Homo sapiens: one gene and its partners. The protein of the gene in region 1 purifies or fractionates together with the protein of each later gene. This does not show direct contact. Each region holds a gene or a part of one and is shown on either strand. Other genes may lie near its edges.

Region 1 (3,500 bases):
TAGGTGACTCTGGCTTGGGGTCTTTTTTATTTTTTTTTTGAGATGTAGTCTCGCTCTGTCACCCAGAGCTGGAGTGCAGTGGCACGATCTCAGCTCACTACAACCGCCACCTCTCAGGATCAAGCGATTATCCTGCCTCAACCTCCCAAGTAGCTGGGACTACAGGTGCACACCACCACACCCAGGTAATTCTTCTATTTTTAGTAGAGACGGGGTTTCGCCATGTTGGCAAGGCAGGTCTCGAGTTCCTGACCTCAGGTGATCCACCCACCTTGGCCTCCCAAAGTGTTGGGATTACAGGCATGAGCCACGCACCCGGCCAGGGGCTTTCATGAAGTTGTAGTAAAGCTGTCTACTGCATTTGCATTCACCTCTAGGCTCAACTCTGCCTGGAGAATCTGCTTCCAAGATCACTCACACCGAAGATCTGCATCCAAGTTTACTGACAGACCTCGTTTTTAACCACATGGACATCACTACAGACTGCCTGAGTGTTCTCAGGATATGGTAGCTAGTGGTCCCAGGGAGAGGGAGAAAGCCAGAATCCCAAGAGAGAAGCCACAGTATTTTATAACCTAATCTTAGAAGTGACATCCCATCACTTTTGCTGTATTCTATTCAATAGCCCCCACTCAAGGGGAGGAAATTACACTAAGGGTATGCATACCAGGAGGGAGGGATAATTGGGGGCCATAATAAAGGCTGCCTACCACAGTACGCATGATAAAAATTTAAAAACATAAAACAAAAAAACTTGCCCTTTAGTTATATATTCTTTGGTATATTTATTTAAATATGATTCTATGATCATTATGCAATTATTCATCCCAATGCTAGTCTTTTCCATCTTACAAAATACCAAAGAGAATACATTAAATATTGAACATATCTTGTTAACCAGTGTCCATTAATGGTCATATTAGAGATAATACAACTAGCAAGGATAAGTCAACAAAAATAGCATCTGGAGAAAAAAAGACTTACTGGGTAAATCTTGCTAAGTAGATGACACTGACCTTTACTATTTAATCATTATAGGCATCATCTTTAGGAGACGGAATGGCACTTAATAAAAGATCAGCTTTTTATATTACAATTAAAGAAATAATAAAAATTCAAAGGTTACTTAGTAAGCTAGAGGATATATCAATCTACCGTTAAGAAATAAAAAGGTTGCCAAGCGCAGTGGCTCACACCTCTAATCCCAGCACTTTGGGAGGCCGAGGCGGGTAGATTACCTGAGGTCAGGAGTTCGAGACCAGCCTGACCAACATAGTGAAACCCTGTCTCTACTAAAATACAAAAATTAGCCAGGTGTGGTGGCACACGCCTGTAATCCCAGCTACTTGGGAGGCTGAGGCAGGAGAATCGCTTGAATCCGGGAGCTGAGATCCCATCACTGCACTCCAGCCTGGGTGACAGAGTGAGACTCCATCTCAAAAAAAAAAAAAAAAAAAGAAAAGAAAAGAAAGGAAAGAAGGAAGAAAAAGGTTTAAGGCTAATTACACATACCTGATTATCAGAATCAAACAGTGCATCACGGCTGAGTGTGTTGGCTCACACCTATAATCCCAACACTTTGGGAGGCCAAGTCAGGAGGATCTCTTGAGACCAGGCTGGGCAATATCATAAGATCATCTCAGCCTGGGCACAATGGCTCACACCTGTAATTCCAGCACTTTGGGAGGCCGAGGCAGGCGGATCATGAGGTCAGGAGTTTGAGACCAGCCTGGCCAATATGGTGAAACCCCGACTCTACTAAAAAATACAAAAATTAGCCGGGCATGGTAGCACACACCTATAGTCCCAGGTACTTGGGAGGCTGAGGCAGAAGAATTGCTTGAACCCGGGAGGCAGAGGTTGCAGTGAGCCGAGATCGCGCCACTGCACTACAGCCTGAGCAACAGAGTGAGACTCAATCTCGAAAAAAAAAAAAAAAAAATCCTGTCTCTAAGAAAAAATTTTAAAACTGGCGGGGCACGGTGGCATGCACCTGTAGTCCCAGCTACTCAGGAGGCTCAGGTGGGAGGACTGCTTGTGCCCGGGAGTTCAAGGTTAGAGTAAGCCATGATTGCCCCACTGCACTCCAGCCTGGGCAACAGAATGAGACAGAGGATAAAAAGATAACAATAAATCTTCAGAGAAGAAGATATCTTTAAAACCTCTTTCCTCTACCAGGCTTCTTATTCTTGGTCTCCTTTCCCTTAAGTAGCTCTCCTTTACTTTATTTACTTGGCAACAACTATTTCCAACCTAACACAATTATCTCAAGACTATCTAAATATAAAATATAATTTTATAGGCCAGGTGCGGTGGTTCATGCCTGTGATCTGAGCACTTTGGGAGGCCAAGGCGGGCGGACCAGGAGGTCAGGAGTTCGAAACCAGTCTAACCAACACGGTGAAACCCCGTGTCTACTAAAAATACAAAAATTAGCCAGGCGTGGTGGCACGTGCCTGTAATGCCAGCTACTTGGGAGGCTGAGGCAGGAGAATCGCTTCAACCTGGGAGGCAGAGGTTGCAGTGAGCCAAGATCATGCCATTGCACTCCAGCCTGGGTGACAGAGAGAGACTCCGTCTCAAAAAAAAAAAACAAAAAAAAAGTGTATATATATATATATATATATATAAAATTTCATAAATAAAATACTATTTACATTTTCACTGGAAAAACCACAAAGTATACTATGTGGATTTTCTTGCCTCCAAAAGCAATTGTGTTATTTCAAGTGTTGAGGATGCCAGAAAGCTTGAAGATTTAAAAATAACCTCACAAAGAGCTCATTTTCAACACCAGATGGAAAGAAATTACTCTAAAGACACATGTGTAGGAAGACAAATATACAATATCATATGATACCATGCAAAAGGTTTATATAATTACGTAATACCATCAAGACTGGAAAGACTGCAGGTAGTAAGCTGGCAACAGTGTCGATCCTCTGAATCATTAAAAAAAAGAGAAAAGGGCAAGAAACAGCAAGTGGGTGGTAGCAAAAAAAATTTTTTAAAGCCTTTACTTTAAGCTGCCTTCCATGTGTCCCTATCGCATGCTGAAATGGTAGGCAGGTAAAATTTGAGGGCTTAAATCCTTGGCACTCCTGAGAGTCCTGCCTGTGTCCATATGGCCAAAAACTGGGGAGGGAAGGGGGAATGGGATGAATTTCAACAATCTGTATGAAATGTATTATTAAGGTGAAACACTCTTCACTTGAATACATATAGAACTTCTAATTGGTAAATTAAAATATGTGCTTGGCATCTAAGTTAAAGCAGCATTTCTTTATAAGATAGGTTTAAAGATATGCCATTAAGATCCCATTGTGTTAAAATGATTTTAATAGGATTACTTAAGAGTATATGTAAGTACTAATAGCTGTATATCAATCACAACTAAACCTTGGCCTAATACTATGTATTCATAAATCACCAAAAATATACATTTCTATTACACGTATGGGTTACAGGCTTAAATTTAACCAATTCAAAACAACTCTATT
Region 2 (3,500 bases), on another chromosome or scaffold:
AGGGGGCTGAAAGCCAATGAGTTCCTGACAATGGGTCTGGTTTCCACTTTCTTGTTAAAATAATAAAAACATTTAAAAGTTGATGAGTACTTATCTCATTAAATCCTCACACTAACGCTGTGAGACTAGATGAGTGTTTCTTAACCCTGGCAGCATATTAGAATCACCTCCAGAAATTCTAGAAAAGTTTTTCGTTTTTGTTTTTTGAGATGGAGTCTCACTCTGTCGCCCAGGCTGGAGTGCAGTGGCGCAATCTCAGCTCACTGCAACCTCCGCCTCTCGGGTCCAAGTGATTCTCCTGCCTCAGCCTCCCGAGTAGCTGAGATTCCAGGCGCATGCCACCATGCCCAACTAATTTTTGTATTTTCAGTAGAGACAAGGTGTCACCATGTTGGCCAGGCTGGTCTCGAATTCCTGACCTCAAGTGATACACCCACCTCGGGCTCCCAAAGTGCTAGGATTACAAGCATGAGCCACAGAGCCCAGCCCTTCTAAAAAAGTTATCAAAGTCCAGGCCCCCCTCCAAGAGATTCTGATGCAGTTGGTCTGGGATGAGACCCTAGGCACTCGTATTTTTTTAGGCGAATCTGATGTACGTCTAGGGTTGAGAACCATGGAATGAAGTTCTCTGTTGACTGATGGGAGTGGGGTGGTGGATGGCTACAGGTGGGCGGTAAAGGATTGCTGAGCAGCACTGAGGGCCTAGGTAAAGTCAGAGACCAAGTATTAGTAGTCCCAATCCCCAAGGCTGTGTGACTTTCCAGTAGGGCCCAGCAGTTCTGGGGAGCTTTTTTTTTTTTTTTTGAGATGGAGTCTCGCTCTGTTGCCCAGGCTGGAGTGCAGTGGTGTGATCACGGCTCACTGCTACCTCTGTCTCCCAGGTTCAAGTGATTCTCCTGCCTCAGCCTCCCGAGTAGCTGGGATTATAGGCACCCGCCACCACACCCGACTAATTTTTGTATTTTTAGCAGAGACGGGGTTTTACCATGTTGGCCAGGCTGATCTTGGACTCTTGACCTCAGGTGATCCGCAAGCCTTGGCCTCCCAAAGTGCCAGGAGTACAGGCATGAGCCACCGGCGCCCGGCTGAATTTTTCTTTCTTAAGTAACTGTTTCAAATTTGAGCCAAGCTACTGAAATAAGTTCATCTATAAGCAAATATAATACTCATATTGGAATTATTAGTAAATACTTTATTTACATACTTATTAAAAATCAAGTATTAATATTTAAGTTGCCCCCAGCTAGACGTTTTCAAGGAAATCTTTTCTTTTCTTTTCTTTTCCTTCCTTTCTTTTTTATTGATGCATAGTAGATGTACAGTTTCAAGGTAATGCAATAATCTAATACATTCATATAATTGGTAAAGATCAAATCAGTATACTTGGAATATCCATCACCTTAAATATTTGTCTTTTCTTTATACTAGAACCACTCGAATTCTTCTCTTCTAACTATAGATCTAATTTTAAGTGCATAGAAAGTAGACCATTGGATTGATCCTGAGTAGCAGGGAGGTGGATGCAGGGAGGTGGCCAAAAGAAAAACTGGACCTCCTCAATCCAATGATCAAGCCCTTAGGCCTAATTTTGAGTGTGCAGGGGATAGGAAAACAAACATGAAGCCTAGGAGAAAGTGGGGAGATTAGGGTGGGCTTGAGGGCTTGGGGGTCTGTGAGGAGAAGAACAGAGGAACAGGATTGGCGGAGGCAGGAAGGGAAGGGGAAGGAGGGAAGCTGTGGTCAGTGGATGGGTCTCAGAATCTGCAGAGCTTATAGCGACAAAAGGGCAGGGTGTGGGCACAGGGGTGGGGTCTGAAGCAGAATGACAGAATGTGAAAGGAGCTGAACCCTAAAAGGCCAGAGGGTCCCAGGGTCCCTCACCGACTGGTGCCTTCAAAAAACACTTGAAACAACCCAGCTGTCCTTCAACAGGTGAATGGTTCGACATACTACAGCACTTCCACATCATGGGATACAGGTTGAATATCATTTATCCAAAATGCTTGGGACCAGAGTGTTTCGGATTTGGGAATATTTGCATTAAACTTACCAGTTGAGCATCCCTAATCTGAAAATTCAAAATCTGAAATGCTATAATGAGCATTTACTTTGAGTGTCATGTCAGCGCTCAAAAAGTTTCAGATCTTACAGCATTTTGTATTTTGTATTTTTGGATTAGGGATACTCAACTGGTACTATTTAGCAATACAGAGGAATAAACTATTGATAAACAAAACCACCTGAATGAAATCTCCAGCGAATTATACTGGGTGAATAAAACCAATCCCAAAAGGTTACATACTGTATTATTCCATTCATATAACATTCTTGACATTATAAAGTTACACAAATGGAGAACAGATAAGTTGCTGCCATGGGTTAAGAGGGCAGAGGTGGGGCAGGAGGGAAGCGGGTATAGTTATAAAAGGCCAAGAGGAGGGATCCTTGTAGTGGTAGGATTGTCTGTATCTTGACTACATCAATGTCAATATCCTGTTTGTGCTATTGTACTATAGTTTTGTTAGGTGTTACCATTGGGAGAAACAAAGGAATACGTATTATTTCTTTTCCTTTTTCTTTTTTTCTTTTTTAGAGACAAGGTCTCATTCTGTTGCCCAGGTTGGAGTGCAGTGGCGTGATCCTGACTCACTGCCGCCTCAAACTCCTGGGCTCAAACAATCCTCCTACCTCAGCCTCCCAAGTAGCTGGGACTACAGGCACACACGACCATGCCCAGCTAGATGTATTATTTCTTAAAACTGCATGTGAATCTATAATTATCTCAAAATAAAAGGCTTTATAAAAACAAATTTAACCCTAATCTACTTTCCTAGTGAATAACGTGCCACTCCTTTCCATATATCTCATGAGTGGCCACATTGAACTTATTTTTTTTCCAGAGAGGGTAAGGTGCCTCTTTAAAGCCACATGCACCAGGTGTGGTGGCTCATGCCCCTATAATCTTAACACTGTTGGAGGCTGAGGCGGGAGGATCGCTTGAGGCCAGGAGTTCAAGACCAGCCTGGGCAACATAGCGAGACTCCATCTCTACAAAGATAAAAACAACAAAACAAAGTTTTTAAAAAATTAGCTAAAGCCGCCAGGCACGGTGGCTCATGCCTGTAATCCCAGCACTTTGGGAGGCCGAGGCAGATGGATCACCTGAGGTCAGGAGTTCAAGACCAGCCTGGCCAACATGGTGAAACCTCATCTCTACTAAAAATACAAAAAACTAGCTGGGCGCGGTGGCGGGCACCTGTGATCCCAGATACTTGGGAGGCTGAGGCAGGACAATCGCTTGAACCTGGGAGGCGGAGGTCGCAGTGAGCCGAGATCGTGCCATTGCACTCCAGCCTGGACAACAAGAGTGAAACTCCGTCTCAAAAAAAAAAATAAAAAAAAGTAGCTAAAGCCATATGCAGTGCAACAGTCTCTTAGGTTAGATGCTTGTGAAAACATATTAGGTGAAAACTGCATATAGCCAAAATTACCCTAGAATA
Region 3 (2,592 bases), on another chromosome or scaffold:
TCTAGGAGCTGTGGGAGAATTTTTAAAATTCCGTTTATGTGAGATAATTCAACCTGTGTCCTAGGTTTGGAGATCGTTTCCCTGCCATGTCTGATGCCTACGACCGGACTATGAGGCAGAGGGCTCTCAGTACCTGGAAACAAATGGGGGAGCAACGTGAGCTACAGGAAGGCACCTATGTGATGGTGGCAGGCCCCAGCTTTGAGACTGTGGCAGAATGTCGTGTGCTGCAGAAGCTGGGAGCAGACGCTGTTGGTGAGAAGGGGAATTTGGCTGGAAGCTTGAAGAGGGAGGGGTTTAGCAAAATGGGAAGGGGAAGGAGTAGGAAATAACAGGCCTCATTGGACTGAGAGGATCTGATTTCAGGGAAGGGTGAATTAAACTGACTTATTGAAATACAAACTGGTGAGATTTGGTGTAGCATCAAATCTCCCTACGAAGCACCAAGGGGTTAACAGCTGCAGTGCTAATGAATGATCTATCCATGATTTGATGACTGTTTTTTGAGACGGAATGTCGCTGTGTTGCCCAGGCTGGAGTGCAGTGGCATGATCTCGGCTCACTGCAACCTCCGCCTCCCGGGTTCAAGCAATTCTCATGCCTCAGCCTTCCGAGTAGCTGGGATTACAGACGTGTGCCACCACGCCCGGTTAATTTTTGTATTTTTAGTAGAGACAAGGTTTCACCATGTTGGCCAGGCTGGTCCTTGAACTCGCGACCTCAGGTAATCCGCCCATCTTGGCCTCCTAAAGTGCTGGCATTACAGGCGCGACGCACTGTGCCTGGCCAATGTGATGACTGTTTCTAAGAATTCTAAAAAATTCACTATAGCCACCTTCTGTACCTCTAGCTGGAAGATGGAACTCTATCATTAGGATTGAGTTCAAAATTGCCACAAATATAGAAATGAAGGATTGTATTGGTAATTTTAAGAAATGTGTATTTATTTTAGGCAATACAGAAGATAATTTAGCTGCTTCTTTGGATTTGTTTTAGGTGGGGCCTTGCTCTGTTGCCAAGGTTGGAGTGCAGTGGCACCATCTCTAGCTCACTACAGTTCTGACTGCCTGGGCTCAAACAATCCTCCCACCTCAGCCTCCTGAGTAACGGGGACCACAGGCGTACACTACCACACCTGGCTAATTTTATTTATTTTTTGAGCCGAGGTCTCTTTATGTTGCCCAGGCTGGTCTCAAACTCCCGGGCTCAAGACATCCTCCTGCCTTGGCCTCCCAATGTACTGGGATTACAGGTGTGAACCACTGCACCCGGCCATCTTTGGATGTTTTTTGAGATTTTTAATTCTTGTTGAAAGCGAGGCTAAAGGGCAAGGAAAAGAGTTATTTGAGGATCCTGACAGTTGGTTTCCATCTTTCTCACTATCAGGCATGAGTACAGTACCAGAAGTTATCGTTGCACGGCACTGTGGACTTCGAGTCTTTGGCTTCTCACTCATCACTAACAAGGTCATCATGGATTATGAAAGCCTGGAGAAGGCCAACCATGAAGAAGTCTTAGCAGCTGGCAAACAAGCTGCACAGAAATTGGAACAGTTTGTCTCCATTCTTATGGCCAGCATTCCACTCCCTGACAAAGCCAGTTGACCTGCCTTGGAGTCGTCTGGCATCTCCCACACAAGACCCAAGTAGCTGCTACCTTCTTTGGCCCCTTGCTGGAGTCATGTGCCTCTGTCCTTAGGTTGTAGCAGAAAGGAAAAGATTCCTGTCCTTCACCTTTCCCACTTTCTTCTACCAGACCCTTCTGGTGCCAGATCCTCTTCTCAAAGCTGGGATTACAGGTGTGAGCATAGTGAGACCTTGGCGCTACAAAATAAAGCTGTTCTCATTCCTGTTCTTTCTTACACAAGAGCTGGAGCCCGTGCCCTACCACACATCTGTGGAGATGCCCAGGATTTGACTCGGGCCTTAGAACTTTGCATAGCAGCTGCTACTAGCTCTTTGAGATAATACATTCCGAGGGGCTCAGTTCTGCCTTATCTAAATCACCAGAGACCAAACAAGGACTAATCCAATACCTCTTGGATTTTATTTAATGTCATAATGTTGTCAGAATAAAGAGAAAGATGAAATAATTTCATTTTTTTGTGTAACTTGGTATGGGGCTGGGGCACAGACCAAGATTGACATGAAAGGATGTGAGATCGCATGTCTTGTGTGACTATCTGCTTCTCAGACAAGCAGTTAGGAACTGAGATGAGATAGTATGTGAGGGCAGCAAAGGATGAAGAAGGGCAAAATGATGAAAGGTGAGGTGGAAAGAGGTTATGAGATGGTAAAGAAAAGTTAACTTCTGGCACTTGATTGCCACTTCTGTCAGGCTGGTCCTGCCTCTCTCCCTTGCCTTCTGATTGTTTCATTTCCTGTTTATTTGATCATATCTGAATTAGTTCACTGGTTAGCCTCTTCCTTAGTTCCCACTTCCTTACCAAAGCCCTAATTATATTTCCTCTTGTTTGCCTTTTCTCTCCTACTCTTCTCTAACATCTGCAGCCACACTCTCCATTCACTCCATGCTGACAAGGCAGTGGCAAACACTTTTCTCTGCTGCCAGCCACTCCACTGTTGACTGGAT
Region 4 (3,500 bases), on another chromosome or scaffold:
ATCCCCTACAATCCCTGGGCCTGAAGAATGGTTACTTTATCTCCCAAAAAGAAATCAACAATGCCCTGCTCTTTCCATCATAACTTGAGGGGAAAAAAAAGAATGTCCTGCTCACCTCAGCATCTGGCTCAATGAGTCGAAGAGACAGTTCAGAACAGCCATAAGCATCAGCTGTTGGGAAACAGAGGAGGCAGAAGGATAAGGTTCAAGGCCCTGAAAGCTGCTACCTAAAAACAAAACCTCCTAATTCATTAAACATCAAAAGACACAGGCTTTCACAAAGGACCAAAAACATAAAGTGGAAGTGAGAGCACAACAGGAAAAGGATCTGTGATTTCTCACAGAAATAAATTCTGCTACATGATTCCACAATTCAACATCTTTTAGCCAAAAGTTTAAACAGAACTTCCCTGTCACAGTCCTCTACAATGTCTTCACCAACTGTATATGTGTTACCTGATGTCTTAGGTAGAGAAATTACTAACCAAGCAATAGCTGAGGTCAGAGGAAGGCTTCAGAGTTAGTGTAAAAAGCATGGACTTTAATTGGCTGGGCACAGTGGGTCACACCTGTAACGTCTAGACCCTGTCTAGACTCTGACTCTATCCCAGCACTTTCGGAGGCTGCAGCAGGCCGATTGCTTGAGCTCAGGAGTTGAGACCAGCCTGGGCAACATGGCAAAACCCTGTCTACAAACAATACAAAAAAAAATTAGCCAGGCATGGTGGTGGGCACCTGCAGTCCCAGCTACTTGGGAGGCTAAGGTGGTAGAATCACTTGAGCCTGGGAGCCAGAGGTTGCAGTGAGCCAAGATCGCACCACTGCAGTCCAGCCTGGGAGACAGAACAAGACCCTGTCTCAAATTTTTTTTTTTTTTTTGAGAGTCTGGCTCTGTCACCCAGGCTGGAGTGCAATGGCGCAATCTCAGCTCACTGCAACCTCCACCTCCCAGGTTCAAGCAATTCTCTTGCCTCAGCCTCCCAAGTAGCTGGGATTACAGGCGCCCACCACCACGCCCAGCTAATTTTTGTTGTTGTTGTTGTTTGTTTGTTTGAGACGGAGTCTCGCTCTGTTGCCCAGGCTGGAATGCAGTGGTATGATCTCGGCTCACTGCAACCTCCGCCTCCCAGGTTCATGCCATTCTCCTGCCTCAACCTCCCGAGTAGCTGGGACTACAGGTGCCCGCACCACGCCCAGCTAATTTTTTGCATTTTTAGTAGACATGGGGTTTCACTGTGTTAGCCAGGATGGTCTCAATCTCCTGACTTCGTGATCCGCCTGCCTCGGCCTCCCAAAGTGCTGGGATTACAGGTGTGAGCCACCATGCCTGGCCTGTATTTTTAGTAGAGATGGGATTTCGCCATGTTGGCCAGCCTGGTCGCGAACTCCTGACCTCAAGTGATCCGCCCACCTTGGCCTCCCAAAGTGCTGGGATTACAGGTGTGAGCCACCACGTTCGGCCTATGTCTCAAAATTTTTTAAAAAGCATGGACTTTAAGTCAGACAGATATGGGTTGGAATCCAAGCTGAGCCATTTTCTACATGTGTGACCCTGAGAAAGTTACTAGGTTGAACCACATCAGATAACTGCCACTTTTGTACTTTTCTCAATGGTCACATACAAGTAATTTCATATAGTTCTTCATGGTTTGGTTTCCTCATTTGTAAAACAAAGGCACCAATGCCTACAACTCATAGAAGTGCTATGAGGTTTAAATAACAATATACTTTACAAAGCACTTATACCAATAATAAGAGCTCAGTAAGAGTTGACTTTCTCAAACTTTCACTTTTGCCTCAAATTATCTGGGGGCTTATTTTTATTTATCTATTCTCCTAGAAGTTGCTATCTGAGGCAAACAGCTTTTCCTGCATATAGGAAGCAGGTTAGGACTATACCCAAGGTCTTCTCCAGTGATCCATTCAGAATGTATGGTTTCAACATGACCCAGGTTGTTAGCTAATTGGCTCAAACTCAGTCAGGTATGGACCCTTCATAGAAGAAGCAAGTATCCCCCTGCAGTCTTGACCATACCTCAGAAATCCATCTTAAAAAACACTACTCAGGGAAAGGTATTAAAACATATATGATGTTTCCTAATGGATGCAAAAGATTAATCTAGGAAAACTTCCTTTCTAGGCGATTCATTTGCCGGGCCATGTTTGTGAGGCTGGTGGGATCTCTGACAACTTCATTAGCTTGGTCAGAAGCCAGAGGAACACGGCTCTATTAGGGCCCCAAACCAGTGGCTATGTACTGCCTGTGGTTTAGAAAGTAGGATCAGAAATAGCAAAGAGGGGTGGGGATTCTCACCTCATTTTCATAGGAGCTGCCAATCACATAGAAATAGAGATCTATACTGCTTTTGTATACCACTGTCAGGCCTTCCAAGAGGGCAATTTCACCTGGTGGGGGAAAAAAAGTAAAAATAGTGGGTGGCTTGAGATAAGGAAGTAGGAAAGAAGGAGTTACCAGCCAGGCGCAGTGGCTCATGCCTGTAATCCCAGCACCTTGGGAAGCCGAGCCTGGCGGATCACCTAAGGTCAGGAGTTCAAGACCAGCCTGGCCAACACAGTGAAACCCCGTCTCTACTAAAAATACAAAAATTAGCCGGGCGTGGTGGTGTGCACCTGTAATCCCTGCTACTCAGGAGGGTGAGATGGGAGAACCACTTGAACCTGGGAGGCGGAGGTTGCAGGGAGCCGAGATCTCGCCACTGTACTCCAGCCTGGGTGACAGAGAGAGACTCTGTCTCAAAAAAAAAAAAAAAAAAAAAGAAGGCGTTACCATGAATTCCTAGTATCCAGCTCTTTTGGGCTAAGGTGAGGCCGCCTGTAATGACTTCCAAAGCCAGAAGATGATCTGCACTTTTTGGGTGGTGGCAGGAGAAGAGAAGTATGAACTTGGGGGAGTCTAAATGTATCTTCTGTAACCACCATCCTCTGTTCCTGCCCACTATACCTATTTCCCTACTTGTATATGAGACAGGATACTAGTCGATCCTTCGGAGGTGAAAATGCAGAGCGGTCACCTTTACAGACTTCCATTTACCTGCCCTAATGGATGCGGTACAATAAGCAGAGCTGCAATTAAATTTGTCAAGTGAGGCTCATAAATCCAGGGACTAGACAGGTAGCTAACAGCCAACCTTCCAGCATGGTATTCCCGCGTGAGGTACACTCACCTCCCCATTACATTCTGAAGAGTTTATTATACAAGGGGAAGAAGGAAAAAAAAAGAAAAAGGCAGAGTCATTTCATCCTTTCTCTGCAGCCCTGTTACCACCCCCTTTCCACCATGGTTCCCCCCAGCACGGGTAGTAGTGAAAGGAAAATGACCTACTGTCAGTCCGATGGGTCTTGTTGAAAATGTTCTTCTCAAAGGCCTTTTGCTCCTTGACACTGGGGTAGGTGTCGTCATAGTACTGGTCAGAGGGAAAGAAGACAGGGTTGGGTCACTAGAGCTGGAAGCCAGAATGATTAGTGACTATGTTTTGCCC
Region 5 (3,500 bases), on another chromosome or scaffold:
AAACCTAGACAGGCCATTTTCCTTACTTGGTAAGTGAGTTCCTTCACTTTTCTCTCATGTTTGCGTAGACCCTTGACAGCTTCAACATTGCGCTTCTGTTCACTTTCAACTTCACCTTCAAGTTCACGAACCTACAAGAAGATGGACATTTTAAGGACATTCATTTGACGAATTTCTACTTCTTCACATGACCCACATACTTCTTCTACTCTGCTTTATATGTAGTTTTTAATGCCCTAGTTCAGTTTTCCTTATTATGAGCTTTTGGGCATGAGGGAATAGCTCTCCCTCATCTCAGTATGCCCCACATCATCTAGCAGTGCTAGGTATTCAGAATCGTGTGTTGGATTGGAATGAGATAGAAATACATGCTGATTAGGAGACCCACCCTGGCCTCCAGTTTCTGGATCTGCTTCTTCCCACCCTTCAGGGCCAGCTGCTCAGCCTCATCCAGACGATGCTGCAGGTCCTTCACCGTCTGTTCCAGGTTCTTCTTCATCCGCTCCAGATGGGCGCTGGTGTCCTGTTCCTTCTTCAGCTCCTCAGCCATCATGGCAGCCTAATTAGCAGTAAAACAGAATGGGTTAAGACAGCTAAGACAGCACATTAAGATTTAAGTTTGACCACCACTGTGTTACCCTTCACTCACATCAGTGATGGCCTTCTTGGCCTTCTCTTCTGCATTGCGGGCTTCCTGGATGATGTCTTCCATCTCTCCCTGGATTTGGGAAATGTCTGTCTCCAGCTTCTTCTTGGTGTTGATCAGGCTGGTGTTCTGTTTAAAATGTGAAATTTAGAAATATTAGGCACATGAGAGAAAAATTAGGAAACCTCATGTTCTAATGAACCATAAACTAATTAACTAAATGAATTCATTAATATTCCTCCTTGTTTCATAAATTATCTGAGTTGACATATGTTTAAAAGACAATCAACTGGCCGGGCGCGGTGGCTCATGCTTGTAATCCCAGCACTTTGGGAGGCCGAGGCGGGTGGATTACGAGATCAGGAGATCAAGACCATCCTGGCTAACACGGTGAAACCCCGTCTCCACTAAAAATACAAAAAATTAGCCGGGCGTGGTGGCGGGCGCCTGTAGTCCCAGGTACTCCGGAGGCTGAGGCAGGAGAATGGCGTGAGCCCGGGAGGTGGAGCTTGCAGCGAGCCGAGGTTGCGCCACTGCACTCCAGCCTGAGCGACAGAGCGAGACTCCGTCTCAAAAAAAAAAAAAAAATCAACTATGGATGTTATAGTTCAGATAAGAATATAGATAATCAAAAAAATAAAATATTTTAAACTTTATCCTTCATGAAATCTTATAAATAGATTTCTTAATAGTACCACGATTTCAGCAAGAATGTCATTTTCATACCCTTGTATTTGTTGCTATTCTATTATTACATGCACCTGGGTGTGCAGGAGCTGAACACGCTCACTGGCATCCAGGAGCTCCTGTTCTGCGATTTTCCTGCTCCTCTCTGTCTGTTCCAGAGTGGCCCGCAGCTCCTCGATCTCAGCCTGCAGCAGGTTGGCTCTGCGCTCCACCATAGCCAGCTGTTCCTTCAGGTCCTCCTGGCTCCGGAGAGCATCATCCAGGTGGAGCTGGGTATCCTGTGGAACAAACCGTCATTGAGACACCATGTATTCAGGGTTGCAGGCACCCCAATTGTCCTGGGATCATCTGTTGGACATATTTACCTTGAGGATGGCTTGGGTGTTCCTATAGTTCCTCAGGGCCTCAGCAGCCATGCGGTTGGCATGGTTCAGCTGGATTTCCATTTCATTGAGGTCTCCCTCCATCTTCTTCTTGAGCCTAATGGCATCATTCCTGCTCCTGATCTCAGCATCCAGTGTGCTCTGCATGGACTCCACGATTCTAATGTGGTTTCTCTTCATCTGGTCAATTTCCTCATCTTTTTCAGCAATTTTCCTATCAACCTCAGACTTGACTTGGTTCAACTCAAGCTGGATGCGCAGGATCTTTCCCTCTTCATGTTCAAGAGATGCCTTAATGACAGCAAGAGGTGACATTAGTAGAGTAATGGAAGTGTGTAGTATTCTAGAGATAAGAATGATTTATCATTCATGAAACCTTATTTATAAATAGATTTCTAAGTAGTAGTAAGATTTAAACAAGAGTGTCATTTTCATGCCTTTGCATTTTCTTGCTATTCTCTAACACACACACTGTCTGCCTTTGTGCTGCCATCATACATTTTTATTTTGTTGTTTTAGACATTTCTACAAATTATTGAATGTTATTGTTGATTTTATATGCTTTTATCTCCCTAGGTAGATTGTGCCCTTGAAAGCAGGGCCTTTAACTGATTCATCTTTGTTTGCTCAGTGTGTAGCACAGTTCCTGACATATGGTTATGTTGGTTGTATGCATGATCAGTTCTCCATTCTCATCCCTAGTTCATGGAGCAAAAATTATTTTTCGTTTCTCTTGATTCACCATTCCTTACATTTAATAGACCCCAATTCCTCTTCTAATTGTTTTAGAGTATGCAATAAAATGCTTACCTCTGCCTCCTCTAAGGCAGCCTGAAGTTCAGACTTTTCTTGCTCAACTTGCTTCTTTATTTTTTCCAGTTCATGGATGCGCTTTCCTCCTTCTGCAATCTGTTCAGTGAGATCAGAAATCTCCTCTGTTGGTGAACAAAAAATATAGAAATTTGTTTATAGTTGGAAAAGATTCTTTCAAATCTTTTATTGTTAAAGAAAAGGTAAAATGTTCTCACGTTGCAAATTCTTATTTTCCCGTTTCAAGGTTTCAAGTTGGTCTAAAGATTCCTCATAAGCATTCTTAATCTTAAATAGTTCTGTGCTGAGTGAGCGGGATTCCTTTTGAGAAGCTTCAAGTTCAGCATGAGTTTCTTCACACTTCTGTTTCCATTCTGCCAGGATCTGAAGGTCAAGGAATGGACAAGAAATTTAGTGGACAAAATTTGATGAGATAAAAACCATCTATTCTAGCACCTCTCAGAGTTGAGGTGTTCTGGGACTGAAAAAAAATTATGAATGAGAAGAATAGAAACCATAGGAGCACTTCCCCTCTCCACAGACAGCTGCTGATGGGTTAAGAGCTACTGAGAACAGCCCTCAGATGGTTTGAATTGGGCACACTGAAGGTAGCAGGCTATTGTTAATTCTGTGTTGAAAGTTGAAGCAAAAACTGGAGAGAATACCTTATCAAAGTTCCTTTGCTTTTTGTCCAGGGCGGCACAGGCAGCATTTGTCCTCTCAACATCAATCATGAGGTCCTCAACTTCATTCTGGAGCCTCTGCTTCGTCTTCTCAAGGGAAGCACATTTGGCATTCACAGCTTCTACATGTTCCTCAGCATCCTGCAGACGCTGAGCCAGCTTCTTCCTATGAAATATGGGCAATAAAAGTGAATGGCTGTCAACTGAATTGGGTGTTTCAAAGTGGGTACAAGAGAGTGAATTCCACAATCAGACTTCTTTAATACTTTGCTTCTCAAGCTTGTTTTGTAG
Region 6 (3,500 bases), on another chromosome or scaffold:
CTGTGAGCTGTGACTGTGCCACTGCGTTCTGGCTTAAGGCGACAGAGTGAGACTCTGTCTCAAAAGAAAAAAAAAGAGAGAGAGAGAAAAGAAAGGGAAATGAAAAGGAGTGAAAAGGGAAAACAGGGACATGAGACAACAGGAATAACATTTTCCTCCCTAGGAATTTTGACTAGTGTCTTCTCTGACAGCTGGCTACACTTTGAGAGTGATCATGGCAATGCTGCAAAGGAGAGGACATGAAAAAGTGTTTAAAAAGATCAATAAGCAACCACTGACCAGGGCGAATATAGGCATCAACAGCAGACATCCTGGGGCCAGTGGACAGGTTTTATCAGAGTTCCCTACATCCAGGATGAGGAAAAAAATTATTTTCTTTTTTTCTTTTTTAGAGACAGAGTTTTGCTCTTGTTGCCCAGGCTGGAGTGCAGTGGCACAATCTCGGCTCACCACAATCTCCACCTCCTGGGTTCAAGTGATTCTCCTGCCTCAGCCTCCCAAGTAGCTAGGATTACAGGCATGGGCCACTACGCCCAGCTAATTTTGTAGTTTTAGTAGAGACGGGGTTTCACCATGTTGGCCAGGCTGGTCTCGAACTGACCTCAGGTGATCCACCTGCCTCGACCTCCCAAAGTGCTGGGATTACAGGCGTGAGCCACCGCGCCCAGCCAAAAAAAATTACTTTCAAATACTCATGCGTCATCAATCCCAGAACTGCTAATCACGCAAATGGGGAGCCCTTTTCTGGCAGCTTATCCACCTGTGTGGACATTTCACGCAGGTTCGAGGTTAAGACTCTCTGTTGAGACATTGCCAAATTAAGCCTCCAAAGCTGGTTACTAAACACAGAACTGTCGCCAGTGAGTTCATCGTCCTCACCTTCACCACTGTTGCTATTTCCTTCCACTGTTCCGGACGCGGGTCCACTCCCGTGGGATTGTGGGCGCAGGCATGCAGAAGAAGAACACTCTGCTCTGGTATTTTCTAAAGAGAAAAACAGCCAAGAGACGACTTTGCAGCTTTAAAGGAAATGGTTTATCTGAAATGCCACAGGATCGTCATCATTTGATAAGTAACAAAGGTAACCAGAACCCTGGGAATCAGCTCTTCCCCAGTATTTTAACTCAGATATTGGGACATGGTGGGAGACATCAAATGTCCGCAAGCAAGGAGTTTTATTCACCTCTCTCACCCTGAAAGCCACACTTACTGAAATATCCTCCACAGCGCCTGTGAAGTCAAAACCGCAAGTCTTGGGGTCATAATACCGATAACCTTGTAGCTGCATGCCAGCATCCCTGAAGATGGGTGTGTGGTTTCCCCAGGTTGGTTTGGGCAGAAAGACATCTCGGCTGAACTTAAAAAATCTTTGCTAAAAGATGGGACGAAAGGAAACAGAAAAATGAACAAAGGAGAGGCAAAAAAATGTTGATGTGTTTTATTGAGAGAACATTTTTCTCTGCTGAAACCCAGTTTCTCTCTATGGTTGAGAAGCAGTATTGACTCAGCAGTAAGACTGCCTGGGTTGGAATAGTCTCTGACAGTTATACTGGCCATGTAGCCAAGGACCTTTCTGGGTCTTGCTTTCTTCACTTGTAAAGGGGGTTAATTGTACCTCTCTCATAGGGATTAAACAAGTTAAAATGCAAAAGCTCCCTAGTAAATAGTAAGTTCCTAGTGAACTGAATTTATCATCATCACTAATATATCTTTCCTGTAATTTCTTCAAAGTCCTTTCATTTTTTCATGAGAATAGGACATCTGCAAACTTCACGGAAAGAAGAAATCTACTTCTGCATCAACAGTCAAATACACACACAACAGGAAGCCCTGTCATCTGGAATTTATAATTCTTTCCTGAAGAAGCTTCCAGACTCACCAGAAAACTGGCTCCGATCCTTAAGGCTCCAGTTCCAGAAATGGTCTGCACAGTGACAAACTGAAGGAGAGATACCCACGGTCAGTGATGTGCAACACTCTCTATACAGGCCCAGACCCAGGGCCACTGCTTTGTCCAGGACCTTTCATACTTCAGAAGCTCATTCTTTATGGCCTGTCAGTATCATTTCATGTTACACGGGAAACTTTCAGAACACAAAAATTCCTCCTCAATATGAAAAAGGGGTGAATTATATAAAAGATATAAAAAGACACTGAGAGGCTGGGTGCGGTGGCTCATGCCTGTAATCCCAGAACTTTAGGAGGCCAAGGCGGGTGGATCACCTGAGGTCAGGAGTTCGAGACCAGCCTGGCCAACATGGCGAGACCCTGTCTCTACTAAAACAAAAATTAGCTGGGCATGGTGGCGCATGCCTGTAATCCCAGCTACTGGAAAGGCTGAGGCATGAGAATTGCTTGAACCTGCGAAGTGGAGGATGCAGTGAGCCGAGACTGTGCCATTGCATTCTAGCATGGGCAAAAGAGTGAGACTCTGTCTCAAAAAAAATAAATAAATAAAATAAAAAGACACTGAGAACAGTCACTACATTAAAACATTACTTTAGAATTATACAAAGTAGAATGACTCTCTAAACATCAAAGTTCCTTGAAAAGCAAGTCAACAAGTATACAAGGATAACATTACAACATTTTAAAGGTTTTCTGGCCGGGCGCAGTGGCTTATGCCTGTAATCCCAGCACTTTGGGAGGCCGAGGTGGACGTATCACCTGAGGTCAGGAGTTCGAGATCAGCCTGACCAACATGGAAAAACCCTGTCTCAACTAAAAATACAAAATTAGCCAGGTGTGTTGGCGCATGCCTGTAATCCCAGCTACTCAGGAAGGCTGAGGCGGGAGAATTGCTTGAACCCAGGAGGCGGAGGTTGCGTTGAGCTGAGATCGTGCTATTGCACTCCAGCCTGGGCAACAAGAGCGAAATTCCATCTCTAAATAAATAAATAAATAAAGGTTTTCTAAGAGGTCCCCTTCTATGTGTTTTCATAATCTGAAAATATTCATGTTTTGGGTAATAGGAAGATGCCTAAGGTGAATCTCCTTATTCAAATTGGTCAACTTTAAGGGACAAACAAGAAATTACCATAGGTTTAAGAGGTTTTTGTTTGTTGTTTTTAAAGGTGTTGTAGAAGTACAAGGCTCTACAAAGCACAAATGTATTTTTCTGGACTGGGGTGGTAGTAGATTAAAGAGGGAAAAACCCAACTAAAAAATTATTTTAAATAGTTTGTCCTGCAAGCTTTGGCATGATGGAAATAAAAACCTCACTGTAGGTCCGATGATACTACGATTCACAAAGGCACAACAATTTTTTTTTTTTTTTTTTGAGATAGGTTCGTGCTCTGTCACCCAGGCTAGAATGCAATGGCATAAACTTGGCTCACTGCAACCTCCACCTTCTGGGTTCCAGGATTCCTCCCATGTCAGCCTCCCCAGTAGCTGAGACTACAGGCGTGCACCACCACACCTGGCTAATTTTTGTATTTTTAGTAGAGACGGGGGGGCGGGTCTCACCATATTGGTCAGGCTGGTCTCGAACTCCTGAC
Region 7 (3,500 bases), on another chromosome or scaffold:
AAGATAAACCTTTAAGATTCCTGCAGGGGCTCCTGCAAGAGGGGCCTCCCCATACCGGGCAGCGGGCACTCTACAGTGTGTCGTCTCTTCTAATCCTCCCCACGACAGTGGCAGCAGGTAGGCAGGATTCTCACCCCTGTTTTCCAGGTGGGGGGACTCCAGTTCAAAGAGCTCCAATGAATTGCCTAAGGCCATGGTTGTCAAGCTAGCAGGCATCCCAACCACCTGGAGGGCTCTACGCCCAGAACCATCATTTAGTGGGGCTGGGGCAAAGCCCAAGAGTTTGCATTTCTCTAACAAGTTCCCAGGTGATGCTGATGTTGTAGGCTGTGGGAGGACCACTGGCTTAAGGTTACCCAGCTACTTAGTGTCAAAGATGGAATTCCGACATACTTCACTGGACTTGGGTAATGTCATTTTCTTTTTTCTCTCTCTCTTTTTTTCCCCTCCGCGAGACAGAGCAAGAGCTCTGTCACCCAGGCTGAGTACAGTGGTGCGATCATGACTCGCTGCAGCCTTGACCTCCTGGGCTCAGGTGATCCTCCCGCCTCAGCCTCCCATGTAGCTGGGACTACAGGCACACCCCACCAAACCTGGGTAAATTTTTAAAAAGTTTTTTGTAGAAGGTCAGGCGTGGTGGCTCACGTAGCACTTTGGGAGGCCAAGGTGGGCAGATCACTTGAGGTCAGGAATTCAAGACCAGCCTGGCCAACATGGTGAAACCCCATCTCTACTAAAAATACAAAAATTAGCCAGGCTTGGTGGCAGGTGCCTGTAATCCCAGCTACTTGGGAGGCTGAGGCAGGAGATCTGCCTGAACTTGGGAGGCAGAAGTTGCAGATCGCCTCACTGCACTCCAGCCTGGGTGATAAAGTGAGACTCCATTAAGAAAAAAAAAAAGTTTTGTACAGATGGGGTCTCACTATGTTGCCCAAGCTGGTTGCAAACTCCTGGGCTCGAGTGATCCTCCTGTCTCAGCCTCCCAAAGTGTTGGGATTATAGGTGTGAGCAACCACACCCAGCCAGTTAATGTCAATTTCTGTCACAAACTCAATTTGTTGGCTTTCCAGAACCTTCTGAATAAGAAAATTTCAAAATGGGACAAAGCAGCCTGGATTCCAGCTCCAGGGATCTGGCCCTGTAAGGAGGAATGTCCACCATTAAATCACAGCAAGTCCAAGTCCTTGGAGGTGAGCCTGAGTGCCTCCCGTTTCACTGAAGAGGTAACTGGAGAAGTGGTATTGTTGCATTTAGGGCTTGATGATTTGGAGTAAAAGACACTGATGTTACCGATTGTGCCTATTTTTATCAGTGGCTTGTTAATTATTTGTTTTCATTAGTGATTTTTATATATGCAGATTTACCCACTTAATCAAACTGCAAACATTGATCAAGGCTTCTTTGTGTCCAGGTCTGGGCCACCCACTTCTCACACGGCACCTCAGTGAATCCTCGAGTCACTCTGAGAACACGGAGCCTCAGAGAGTTAAAGGGCTTGCCCAATCCAGGGTAAATCCACAGGTGGAGTGGGGACAGGGACCTGGGTTTGACCCCATACTCTGAACTGCCCTGGTCTGCTGCCCCCTGCTGAGCATGAGCGAAATGGCAGGACCTCAGCCAAGTCACTTTGTGGCTGTTCAGAGCCAAGCCTAAAGCTTGGTTCTTCCCACGAAGATGGGCTGTTGCAACAGGGAAGAAACAGAAATGAAGTGACTAACAGTTTCATGGCTAACCAATCTGCATACATAAAAATCACTAATGAAAACAGAAATAATTAACAAGCCACTGATAAAAATAGGCACAATCGGTAACATCAGTGTCTTTTACTCCAAATCATCAAGCCCTAAATGCAACAATACCACTTCAGGTGCTTTGTGAGAGGTAGTGTGTGTTGAAGGTTGTGTAGGCTGAGTTAGTTACCTCAGCTTTAATACTAGTGAAGTTAATAAGTGAAAACTAGAAGTCTGTTTTTTTTGTTTTGTTTTTTGAGACTGGGTCTCGCTGTTGCCCAGGCTGGAGTGCAGTGGCGTGATCATGGCTCACTGCAGCCTCAACTGCCCAGGCTCAAGCGATCCTCCTGCCTCAGCCTCCCGAGTAGCTGGGAATACTGGTGCCACCATGTCCAGCTAACAAAAGTTTGTGTTAAAATGTCTTGGCCGGGCATGGTGGCTCACGCATATAATCCCAGCACTTTGGGAGGCTGAGGTGGGAGAATCGCTTGAGCCTAGGAGTTTGACACCAGCCTGGGCAACATAGTGAAACCCTGTCTCTACCAAAAAAAAAAAAAAAAAAAAAAATGCTGGGTGTGGCGACACATGCCTGTGGTCCCAGCAGTATACTAGGGAGGCTGAGGCTGCAGAGAGCCATGATCGCACCACTGCACTCCAGCCTGGGCAACAGAGCTAGACCCTGTCTCAAAAAAAAAAAAAAAAAAAAGCCTGTTCACGTGGGCGGTTCTGGGCCAGGGTGGGGTGAATGTGGCACACATGTGGAGAGCCACACTGTCTGGAACACCTGCTGCTGTCTGCAGCCTGGGAAGCAGTACCTCAGCTGGATGGGGTCAGGTCAGGCAGGTGGGAAGGCATGGATCTCCCTCCCGGGCCAGGCTGCTCCAGGCTGCCCACGATGTGTAGGGTGCTAACTACAGTCTCAAACGGGCACTTCCAGCAGCAGCCAGGCCTGCTCTACGCCTGTGGCCACCCCTGGGTCCTGTGTTCTGTAGCCATCCTGAGGCAATTCAGCGCCAGGGCCTCCTAGGCTCTGCGTGGTGGCTCCTGACCACAGGAGTTCTGGCACCAAAACCCAATTATTTTTTCTTGGCCACATAAAAGTGGGTATGTCAAAGTGTCAAATCACTGGTTTTCATCCTAAAACTATGCCCCACAGACATCCCTGACCCCGTCCCCACTGCTGACCCCACTTCTGACCCATATCAGTGGGGTGTCAGCAGTGGAGGGAGGTTTACAGAGTCATTCATTTATTTAATCAATGGATATTTGCTAGATGCTTACTATGTGCTTACAAGCCCCTGCCCTCATAGAACTTACTCTCAAGTGGAGTAGATGGCCTTAAAAATGCAGGTAAGCATTTGGTGACGAGGAAGGACTTGAGTGGCAGCAGTGAGGCTGAGCCAAAGAAGCATGCTCTGTAAGACAAGCTCAGCGCGCCACCGTCCTCCAGCACAGCGCCGCATGTGTGTGGGAGAGAGACAGTGTGACTTGAGAGCACGGGCGCCCCCTGCAGTGCTGCCAAGGTGAGGGACTGGCCACCTCATCCTCCTCCACTGACAAGGTTGTGGGATCTCCAGGCCTGTGAACCCCAAGGAGAACCCCCTACTTGGGAGCTGCCCATTCTGGACTCAAGCACCAACCACAGTCATGGGCTCTGAATGCCTGTGGGTCTTCAGGGCCAAATTGGAGACGCTGCCGCTGCCAAGTTGAGACCTGAATGGCCAGGAGCTTTCAGATGACACTGTCCTTCCAGAGGAGACATTCTCAGGA

Evidence for each region.
Region 2: the proteins of EPB41 (region 1) and PIN4 purify together in Homo sapiens (co-immunoprecipitation; one large-scale study listed by IntAct). This does not show direct contact.
Region 3: the proteins of EPB41 (region 1) and PNP purify together in Homo sapiens (co-immunoprecipitation; one large-scale study listed by IntAct). This does not show direct contact.
Region 4: the proteins of EPB41 (region 1) and COPZ1 purify together in Homo sapiens (co-immunoprecipitation; one large-scale study listed by IntAct). This does not show direct contact.
Region 5: the proteins of EPB41 (region 1) and MYH1 purify together in Homo sapiens (co-immunoprecipitation; one large-scale study listed by IntAct). This does not show direct contact.
Region 6: the proteins of EPB41 (region 1) and GOT2 purify together in Homo sapiens (co-immunoprecipitation; one large-scale study listed by IntAct). This does not show direct contact.
Region 7: the proteins of EPB41 (region 1) and DYNLRB1 purify together in Homo sapiens (co-immunoprecipitation; one large-scale study listed by IntAct). This does not show direct contact.

Annotation. Positions count from the first base shown.
Region 1 is NC_000001.11:28,921,069-28,924,568, reverse strand, and holds part of EPB41 (protein 4.1), read right to left. Parts: intron 1-3,500. UniProt on the Homo sapiens protein: Protein 4.1 is a major structural element of the erythrocyte membrane skeleton. It plays a key role in regulating membrane physical properties of mechanical stability and deformability by stabilizing spectrin-actin interaction. Recruits DLG1 to membranes.
Region 2 is NC_000023.11:72,188,257-72,191,756, reverse strand, and holds part of PIN4 (peptidyl-prolyl cis-trans isomerase NIMA-interacting 4), read right to left. Parts: intron 1-3,500.
Region 3 is NC_000014.9:20,474,998-20,477,589, forward strand, and holds the end of PNP (purine nucleoside phosphorylase), read left to right. Parts: intron 1-64; coding exon 65-255; intron 256-1,386; coding exon 1,387-1,604; 3' UTR 1,605-2,092; downstream 2,093-2,592. UniProt on the Homo sapiens protein: Catalyzes the phosphorolytic breakdown of the N-glycosidic bond in the beta-(deoxy)ribonucleoside molecules, with the formation of the corresponding free purine bases and pentose-1-phosphate.
Region 4 is NC_000012.12:54,342,131-54,345,630, reverse strand, and holds part of COPZ1 (coatomer subunit zeta-1), read right to left. Parts: intron 3,426-3,500; coding exon 3,344-3,425; intron 2,407-3,343; coding exon 2,315-2,406; intron 172-2,314; coding exon 116-171; intron 1-115. UniProt on the Homo sapiens protein: The coatomer is a cytosolic protein complex that binds to dilysine motifs and reversibly associates with Golgi non-clathrin-coated vesicles, which further mediate biosynthetic protein transport from the ER, via the Golgi up to the trans Golgi network.
Region 5 is NC_000017.11:10,494,543-10,498,042, forward strand, and holds part of MYH1 (myosin-1), read right to left. Parts: intron 3,376-3,500; coding exon 3,192-3,375; intron 2,911-3,191; coding exon 2,745-2,910; intron 2,652-2,744; coding exon 2,527-2,651; intron 2,008-2,526; coding exon 1,699-2,007; intron 1,612-1,698; coding exon 1,408-1,611; intron 776-1,407; coding exon 650-775; intron 560-649; coding exon 389-559; intron 132-388; coding exon 27-131; intron 1-26. UniProt on the Homo sapiens protein: Required for normal hearing. It plays a role in cochlear amplification of auditory stimuli, likely through the positive regulation of prestin (SLC26A5) activity and outer hair cell (OHC) electromotility.
Region 6 is NC_000016.10:58,717,317-58,720,816, forward strand, and holds part of GOT2 (aspartate aminotransferase, mitochondrial isoform 1 precursor), read right to left. Parts: intron 1,940-3,500; coding exon 1,880-1,939; intron 1,373-1,879; coding exon 1,211-1,372; intron 985-1,210; coding exon 880-984; intron 1-879. UniProt on the Homo sapiens protein: Catalyzes the irreversible transamination of the L-tryptophan metabolite L-kynurenine to form kynurenic acid (KA). As a member of the malate-aspartate shuttle, it has a key role in the intracellular NAD(H) redox balance.
Region 7 is NC_000020.11:34,536,922-34,540,421, reverse strand, and holds part of DYNLRB1 (dynein light chain roadblock-type 1), read right to left. Parts: intron 1-3,500. UniProt on the Homo sapiens protein: Acts as one of several non-catalytic accessory components of the cytoplasmic dynein 1 complex that are thought to be involved in linking dynein to cargos and to adapter proteins that regulate dynein function.